2 separate regions of the Homo sapiens genome follow, and region 1 is linked to region 2. The links come from fine-mapping of genetic effects on gene expression. A gene starts in region 2. The other region holds a variant in brackets. All regions are shown on one strand. Distances are between the middles of the regions.

Region 1 (4,388 bases), 35 kb after region 2:
GTGCAAATGGCACGATCTCAGCTCACTGCAACCTCTGCCTCCTGGGTTCAAGGGATTGTCCTGCCTCAGTCTCCCGAGTAGCTGGGGCTACAGGCACCTGCCACCACGCTTCAGTACCCTTCAGTGGTTTTTTGTATATTCACAGGGTTGTGCAACCATCACCACAGTCTAATTTTAAAACCTTTTTTTCCTACCATGAAAGAAACCTGACCCATGAGTAGCCCCTTCTCACTACTCCCCACCTTTCCTCACCCCCCAGCCCTGGCAACCACCCATCTACTTCCTGCCTCTAGATTTGCTTCTTCTGGGCATTGAAGATAAATGGAATCATATATGTGGTCTTCTGGGTCTGGCTTCTACTTGGCCCTATGCTTTCAAGTTCAGCCATGTGGATATCTTCATCTATGTTTATTGTTTTTTTTTTTTTGAGACGGAGTCTTGCTCTGTCACCCAGGCTGGAGTGCAGTGGCACGATCTTGGCTCACTGCAACCTCTGCTTGCTGGGTTCAAGCGATTCTGCTTCAGCCTCCCAAGTAGCTGGGATTACAGGCCTGTGCTACCACACCTAGCTAGTTTTTGTATTTTTAGTAGAGACTAGGTCTCACCATGTTGGCCAGGCTGGTCTCAAACCCCTGACCTCAGGTGATCCGCTCCCCTTGGCTTCCCAAAGTGCTGTGATTACAGGCGTGAACCACCGTGCCCAGTCCTTTTGTTTATTGTTGAATAACAGTGTATTGTGTGGATGTACGGTACATTAATACTAATTCAACTTCACCCTTTTTTAAAATTTTTCTTACTAATTCAACTTCACACTTTTTTTTTATTTTTCTAGTTTTCCCCTAATGTCCTTTTCTGCTTCAGGATCCCTTGTGACACCACATTATATTTAGTTGTCACATCTACTTAGCTTCCTCAGCCTGACAGCTTCTCAGGCTTCACCTTTGTTGATCTTGACAGTTTCAAGGAGTGCTGGTTTGTATTTTGTAGAATATTCTTTTTTTTTTTGGCGGACGGGGGGCGGGGGACGGAGTCTCTCTCTGTCACCCAGGCTGGAGTGCAATGGTGTGATCTCTGCTCACTGCAACCTCCACCTCCCCGGTTCAAGTGATTCTCCTGCCTCAGCCTCCCGAGTTACTGGGATTATAGGCGTGTGCCACCATGCCCAGCTAATTTTTGTATTTTTAGTAGAGATGGGGTTTCACCACGTTGGTCAGGCTGGTCTCAAACTCCTGACCTCAGGTGATCTACCTGCCTCGGCCTCCCAAAGTGCTGGGATTACAGGTGTGTGCCACCGCACCTGGCCTCAGAATATTCTTTTTAAAAACAACTTTATAAATTTAAAATGTATATATATATATATATATATACACACACATTATATATATATACATGCATATATATATACACATATACACGCATATATATATACGCATTATATATACGCATTATATATATATATGTTTTTTTTTTTTTTTCTAGAGATGAGGTCTCACTATGTTGCCCAGGCTGTTCTTGAACTCCCAGGCTCAAGTGATCCTCTCGCCTCAGCCTCTTACAGTGCTGAGATTACAGGTGTGAGCCTCCACACCCAGTTGAATATTCCTAAAATTTGGGTTTGTCTGATCCTTTTTCTCATGAATAGGTTTGGTTTATGGAGTTTAGGGAGGAAGACCACAGAGGTGAAGTTCTTTGCTTTTCACTTAAAACTTTTTTTTTTGAGACCGGGTCTTGCTCTGTCAAGCCGGGTAGAGTGCAATGGTGCAATCATGGCTCAGTGCGGCCTCAGGCTTCTGGGTTCAAGTAATCCTGCCTCGGCCTCCCTAGTAGCTGGAGCAAGAGATGCATGGCGCCATTCCTGGCTAAATTTTTGCAATTTTTTTTTGTAGAGACGGGGTTTTACCATGTTGCTCAGGCTGGTCTCGAACTCCTGACCTCAGGTGATCCGCCCACCTCAGCCTCCTAAAGTGCTGGGATTACAGGCGTGAGCCATGGC[A/G]CCCAGGCCTGAATGCAGCCTCTTGCCTTGGCCAGGTTATTCTTCAGAGAAGTAGCAGGAGTTGGGGAAGGAAGTCTCGGCACTCCTGACAGAGGCCTGGGGCGTCAGACTCTGTCCTGGGCAGCTGCTGTGGCCCTGTGAGAGACAAGGCCTGCACAGGAGTCCAGCAGGGTTCAAATAAGTGAAGGCTCCGGCTCCTCATGCCGGAGGAATGAGGGCTCTTCACGTCTCTGCCACATCTGCCACCCCTTCCCATGAGGAGTGTCTAGTTACCCAGACCCTAGAGCGGCAGTGCGGCCAGCTTGATGACGTGCTGCTAGTCGTTTCACCCAGGCTCCCAGGCAGGGGGTCAGGCTGAGCTACTTGCCTTCCGTTCTGCTCCCGGCAGGAACCAAGCCGGAGACCTGGACATGCCCAGCTCCTCCTGATGCCAAGACCTGAGAGGAGTTTCTCCCAAGGATGGATTTCAAGGTAGATGTTTTGTGTGGGGCCCAAGTAACAACAGTGCTCCGTGGAGTCAGCAGCCACTCTGAACTCCCTGTGGAGCCCAGTCCCCAGCTGCCGGGCACCCTCGGGGGTATGCTCCACAGGGGAGGGTTCAGTGGCCCCTGACCACCTACACCCCCTGCGGTGGGCCACCGCTGCCATCTCCAGTTGGCCGCTGCAGGTGGCTGCAATCCTGTCCCCGCTAGGCCCCTGTTCCCCAGGAGGCTTCTCTGTCCCTTTATGTAAGATGCCAGCTTCCCAGCTGCCCATGCAGACGTGGCACATGACCTGCCTGTAAAAGTCAGCAGCAGGCGCTGGCAGCCTCTGGTTTCCCTCTTCTTATTTATTTGTATTTATTTATTTATTTATTTATTTATTTATTTATTTATTGAGACTGAGTTTCGCTCTTGTTGCCCAGGCTGGAGTGCAGTGGCGTGATCTCGGCTCACTGCAACCTCCGCCTCCCGGGTTCAAGCAATTCTCCTTCTTCAGCCTCCTGAGTAACTGGGATTACAGGCGCCCGCCACCACGCCCAGCAGATTTTTGTAGTTTTAGTAGAGATGGGGTTTTGCCATGTTGGCCAGGGTGGTCTTGAGCTCCTGACCTCAAGTGATCCACCTGCCTTGGCCTCCCAAAGTGCTGGGATTACAGTTGTGAGCCACCGCGCTCTGCCATTTAGTTTTAGAGACAGCGTCTTGCTGTGTCGCCCAGGCTGGAGTGCAGTGGTGCGATCATAGCTCACTGCAGGCTGGACCTCCTGAGCTCAAGTGATCCTCCCACTTCAGCCCCTTTATTTTTATTTTTTATAGACGTGGGGTCTCACTATGTTGACCAGGCTGATCTCAAACTCCTGGCCTCAAATGATCCTCCTGCCTGGGTCTCCCAAAGTGTTGGGATTACAGGCATGAGCTGCCGTGCCCAGCCCAGTTTCTCCATTCTGATGCCATCGTACTTGCTCTTACTTTCCTGATACCCCACCCATCCCTATTCCCTCCCCATACAGCTGCCTTGCAGCTCTTGGTGGCTTCAGACCTTGTAGCTCCAGTGCACTCTTTGGGACACATTTTTCTGTCTTGAACACTTCACATTCCTTTGGATACAATGTGGGCATTTGCCCTCTGGCCTCAGACATTGAGACCTCTTACCTGGCCCAGCCTTCCCCGGCTTACACACTAAGCCCGTTCTCTGCCAGGCATGTAATCTCAGCTGAGGTGGGCAGATGGCTTGAGCCAAGGAGTTTGAGACCAGCTGGGCAATATAGCCAGACTCCATCTCTACACACACAAAAAGTGTATATATATATATATATTTGTATGTATACATATATACATCCTCTATTTGACAGGGGAAGAAGAGGGTGTCTGGCATTTATTAGGGACCTAAATAAGTTCAGAATATTATGTTTAATCTCCTTGACTACCTATTTAGTTACGTATCTCTCCCACTTTGCTGATGAGAAAAATGAGGCTCAGAGAGGTGACATTCAACATCACATAGCCTGAGGGTGGTAAAGCCAGGATTTTAACCGAGGTCTGTGGGACTCTAAAGTCCTGTCAAAATTTTTGGTCGAGTGTTTGCTCATATGTTTTGCCTGTTTTAAAAACTGAATTGTTTGTCTTCTGATTGACTTGTAAGAGACCTTGATCATTAGATATTCCAGATAATGAGTCCTTTGTCAGATTCTGTTTTGTGAATATTTTCTTGATCCATGACTTGTCTTTTTTTTTTTTTCTGTCATCATCTTGAAGAACAAAAGTTTTAAATCTGGTTAAAATTTAATTTGCTGACTTTTCTTTGAGACAGAATCTTGCTCTGTCTCCTAGGCTGGGGTGCAGTGGTGCAATCTCACCTCAGTGCAACCTCCGCCTCCTGGGTTCAAGCAATTCTCCTGCCTCAGCTTCCCAAGTAG
Region 2 (4,388 bases):
CTGGGATTACAGGCATGCGCCATCACGCCCTGCTAATTTTGTATTTTTAGTAGAGTCAGGGTTTCTCCATGTTGCTCAGGCTGGTCTCGAACTCCTGACCACAGGTGATCTGCCTGACTCAGCCTCCCAAAGTGCTGGGATTACAGGCATGAGCCACCGCGCCTGGCCTACTTATTTATTTTTTTGAGACGGAGTCTTGCCCTGTCGCCCAGGCTGGAGTGCAGTGGCAGGATCTTGGCTCACTGCAACCTACGCCTCTCAGGTTCTAGCAATTCTCCTGCCTCAGCCTCCCTAGTAGCTGTGATTACAGGCGTGCACCACCATGCCTGGCTAATTTTTGTATTCTTAGTAGAGACGGGGGTTTCACCATGTTGGCCAGGCTGGTCTCGAACTCCTGGCCTCAAGTGATCCGACTGCCCTGTCCTCCCAAAATGCTGGAATTACAGGCATGAGCCACCGCACCCAGCCCCCCTTTCCAGATTCTTAACAGTCCCTAGATGGTATTAAGTAGCATTTTTGTTTGTTTGTTTTTTGTTTTTTGAGACGGAGTCTTGCTCTGTCACCAGGCTGGAGTGCAGTGGCACGATCTTGGCTCGCTGCAACCTCCACCTCCTGGGTTCAAGCAATTCTGCTTTAGCCTCCTGAGTAGCTGGGACTACAGGCAATGCCACCATGCCCAGCTAATTTTTTGTATTTTTAGTAGAGATGGGGTTTCACCATGTTGGCCAGGATGGTCTCAATCTCTTGACCTCGTGATCTGCCCGACTCAGCCTCCCAAAGTGCTGGGATTACAGGTGTGAGCCACCGCAGCGGTCCTGAGGTAGATTTGTTTGTTTGTTTGTTTGTTTGAGATAGGGTCTTGCTCTGTTGCCCAGGATGGAGTGTAGCGGTGCAATCTCGGCTCACTGCAACCTCCACCTCCTGGGCTCAAGCAATTCTCTTGCCTCAGATTCCCAAGTAGCTGGAATTATAGGTACGCACCACCATGCCTGGCTAATTTTTGTATTTTTGCTAGACAGGGTCTCGCCATGTTGGCCAGGCTGGTCTTGAACTCCTGGCCTCAAGTGATCCACCCGCCTCGGCCTCCCAAAGTGCTGGGATTACAGGTGTGAGCCACCACGCCAGCCAGGTGCTGGGAATCTGAAGGAGGGACAATGACCCTGCCTAGGGTAGGTGGAGAGATTGCATAGAGGCAGAGCCCTTGGAAAGAAACACTTGAAGGATGAGGAAGAGTTTAACTGATTCAGAAAAAGGAAAAGCTCAATGTGGGTAGAGAGCCAAGGACGTTTGGAAGAGTGAGAGATGGGGTGATGAGGCCAGCTGAGGGAGGCTTTGGCAGTCAGGCCAGAATTCAGACTTGACTCTGAGTTACTGGGGAGTTCCTGAAGGATTTTGAGCAGTGGAGTTCTTTGGCCAGGATTCTGAAGGAAAATCTCTCGGGCAGTGGTGTCCAAAGACCTGGAGTCCTTTTATGAATCCATTGTCTGAGCTGGAAAATGTATGGCTTCACCCACTCCCAATCCCATCATGGCTTCTGGTCCACTTTTTTCTTTTTCTTTTTTTGAAACAGCGTTGGCCTGGCATGGTGGCTCACGCCCGTAATCCCAGCAGTTTGGGAGGCCGAGGCGGGCAGATCACGAGGTCAGGAGATCGAAACCATCCTGGCTAACACGGTGAAATCTCGTCTCTACTAAAAACACAAAAAAATTAGCCAGGCGCGGTAGCAGGTGCCTGTAGTCCCAGCTACTCGGGAGGCTGAGGCAGGAGAATGGCGGGAACCCGGGAGGTGGAGCTTGCAGTGAGCCGAGATGGCGCCACTACACTCCAGCCTGGGCAACAGAGCGAGACTCCGTCTCAAAAAAAGAAAGAAAGAAAGAAAAAGAAACAGGGTTTTGCTGTGTTGCTCAGGCTGGAGTGTAGTGGTGTGATCACAGCTCACTGCAGTCTTGATCTTCTGGGCTCATGCAATCCTCCCACCTCAGCCTCCCCAGTAGCTGGGACTACAGGATTGTACCAACATGCCTGGCTAATTTTTTAATGTTTTGTAGAGATGGTAGAGGGGCACGTCCCTCTGTTGCCCAGGCTGGTCTGGAACTCCTTGGCTCAAGCTGTCCTCCCTCCTCCGCCTCCCAAAGTGCTGAGATTACAGGCGAGAGCCACCTTGCCCGTCCTGGGAACTGTTTTCTAATCAGCTCATCAAAACCTTCATCTCCCCTGCTAACAAAGGGAGCCACTTCCTTCCTCTCTGCACATACCCCATGTCTCACCACGATGATGGAGCTACAGTGGGACTTGGAATCCAGATGTGTGAAGGATGGAGGGTTGAAGGTACGTAGACAGGTGATGGGCAAAGGGGTCCAGGAGGTGGCAACCCCAAGTGTTCTTGGCCTTGGCCTTCCCCACCTCTCTGGGACTGGGCCAGTTTGAGCATCTCAGCTGCCTCTTCTGCCCGCCCCCTTGTTAGCCGCACTCAGCTTCCTGCCCCACCAGAGGAAGTGGGGAGAGACGGCAGGTGCAGTGATGGCTGGCGGAGTCATGGTGAGTCCTTACACCCAGAAACCTGGGCATCTCGGCCCCCAGCCCCCATGCCTGGGGTCCCCAGACCCCACTGACTCTTCCTAGCCCAGGAACTCAAGTGATCCTGGGGACCCTGCCTGCCATTGCCAGCAGCCTCATATTGTCCACCCCCATCCATAGGACAAGGAGTACGTGGGTTTTGCTGCCCTCCCCAACCAGCTGCACCGCAAGTCTGTCAAGAAGGGGTTTGACTTCACGCTAATGGTGGCAGGTCTGGGGGTTTTGGAGAGGGAACTGCGGAGGGGATGTCCTTAGGAGGCCCTGGCTGTCCCCTCCCCTGACCAGTTGGGCCTGTTCTGTCCACAGGGGAGTCAGGCCTAGGGAAATCCACCCTCATCAACAGCCTCTTCCTCACCAACCTCTATGAGGATCGCCAGGTGCCAGAGGCCAGTGGTAAGACCCTCCCCACCCTCTTGAGGCAGTAGCCCCTGTCCCCAGGTTACACCCTAGTCTTTTCCATCTGGGGACTCAGGTAGTTGACTGCTTTTTTTCTGAGACTTTCCTCCCCTGGGAAATGGGTGCAGGCAACTGTGATATTGACAAAGGAAATTAATTCTGCCTCAGAGCCTCCCCGGATCCCTGACCTCTCCCCCATCCCACAGCTCGCTTGACACAGACCCTGGCCATTGAGCGCCGGGGCGTAGAGATTGAGGAAGGGGGTGTGAAAGTGAAGCTGACCCTTGTGGACACACCTGGCTTTGGGGACTCAGTGGACTGCTCTGACTGGTGAGGAAGAGGAAAGGGGACAGAGGCTCAGCCTTTCACAGTGGCGACTCCCTGGAGAGTTACAGGACTGGTTTGTGCTGGCTCCCTATCTCAAAAGGTGGTGTCTGTTTCAGAGGGCCACTGGGTCCCTGTGCTTCTTGATGACTCACCTAGGCCCCCACCAGTTCCCCTTAATGTCTTTGGAGGGAGCCAAAGAAATGACATTCTACTCCCACAGTCCTGGCTAGCCTTGCCCCCTGCCCTCTGGCCTTTGATCTCTGACCTCACATCCTCTCCCCACACCCAGCTGGCTTCCGGTGGTGAAATTCATCGAGGAGCAATTTGAGCAGTACCTTAGGGATGAGAGTGGCCTGAACCGGAAGAACATCCAGGACTCCCGAGTCCACTGCTGCCTCTACTTCATCTCACCCTTCGGCCGGGGGTCTGGTGGGGGGATCCTGGGGGCTGGCGCATTTAGGGAGGGCTGGGGGGTCTCTGCCCCCTGAGGCTGGGCAATGACCAATCCCTGGGTGCAGGCTCCGGCCCCTAGATGTGGCCTTCCTCCGGGCAGTACACGAGAAAGTCAACATCATCCCAGTCATTGGCAAAGCGGATGCTCTGATGCCCCAGGAAACCCAGGCCCTCAAGCAGAAGGTGTGAGTGATGACCTCTGACCTTTGACCCCATGTGAAGCCAAACCTGATTTCAGCTTAGACTTCTTTGATCTTGAAGTGGCCTTTCTGGAGCATGGTGCATCAGGCTAGATTGTAGGAGAAGCTTCTGAGGAAGGCGGGTGGTAAGCCGCCAGCATAGCCATGTCTCTGAAGGCTCAAAATAGGCTACATATGCAGCCCCCGGGCTAGATGCCTGGCTGAGGCCTATTTGAGGGCAGGAGCATAGACATGAGAACATAGTGACTTCCCTCTGGCCCCCACCCCGTGTCTTCAGAGCCCTTTCCCACTGTTTCTGCTTATATCTCTCTCGGCCTCTCTTTCTCTCTCTTTTTTTTTTTAGATAGAGTCTCACTCTGTGGCCCAGGCTGCAGTACAGTGGCAAGATCAGAGCTCACTGCAGCCTCGAACTTGTAGGCGCAAGTGATCCTCCTG

The links. PIP is the estimated chance that this variant, and not a neighbour inherited with it, causes the effect.
Region 1: its variant is the best candidate, but not a certain one, in a credible set for the expression of SEPTIN1 in caudate (GTEx, PIP 0.89).

Annotation. Positions count from the first base shown.
Region 1 is chr16:30,345,693-30,350,080 of GRCh38, reverse strand. No RefSeq gene overlaps it. Among named protein-coding and RNA genes, the nearest start is that of CD2BP2, 7.4 kb to the left of the region's middle. RefSeq lists an enhancer at 1,850-2,349. The variant A/G (reference allele first, on the strand shown) is at 1,994.
Region 2 is chr16:30,380,675-30,385,062 of GRCh38, reverse strand. SEPTIN1 (septin 1) reads left to right here and starts at 2,502. Exons shown (of 11, transcript NM_001365977.2): 1 at 2,502-2,538; 2 at 2,698-2,788; 3 at 2,884-2,970; 4 at 3,180-3,303; 5 at 3,590-3,724; 6 at 3,819-3,936. The coding sequence starts at 2,521. It also overlaps a transcript of ZNF48 not described here.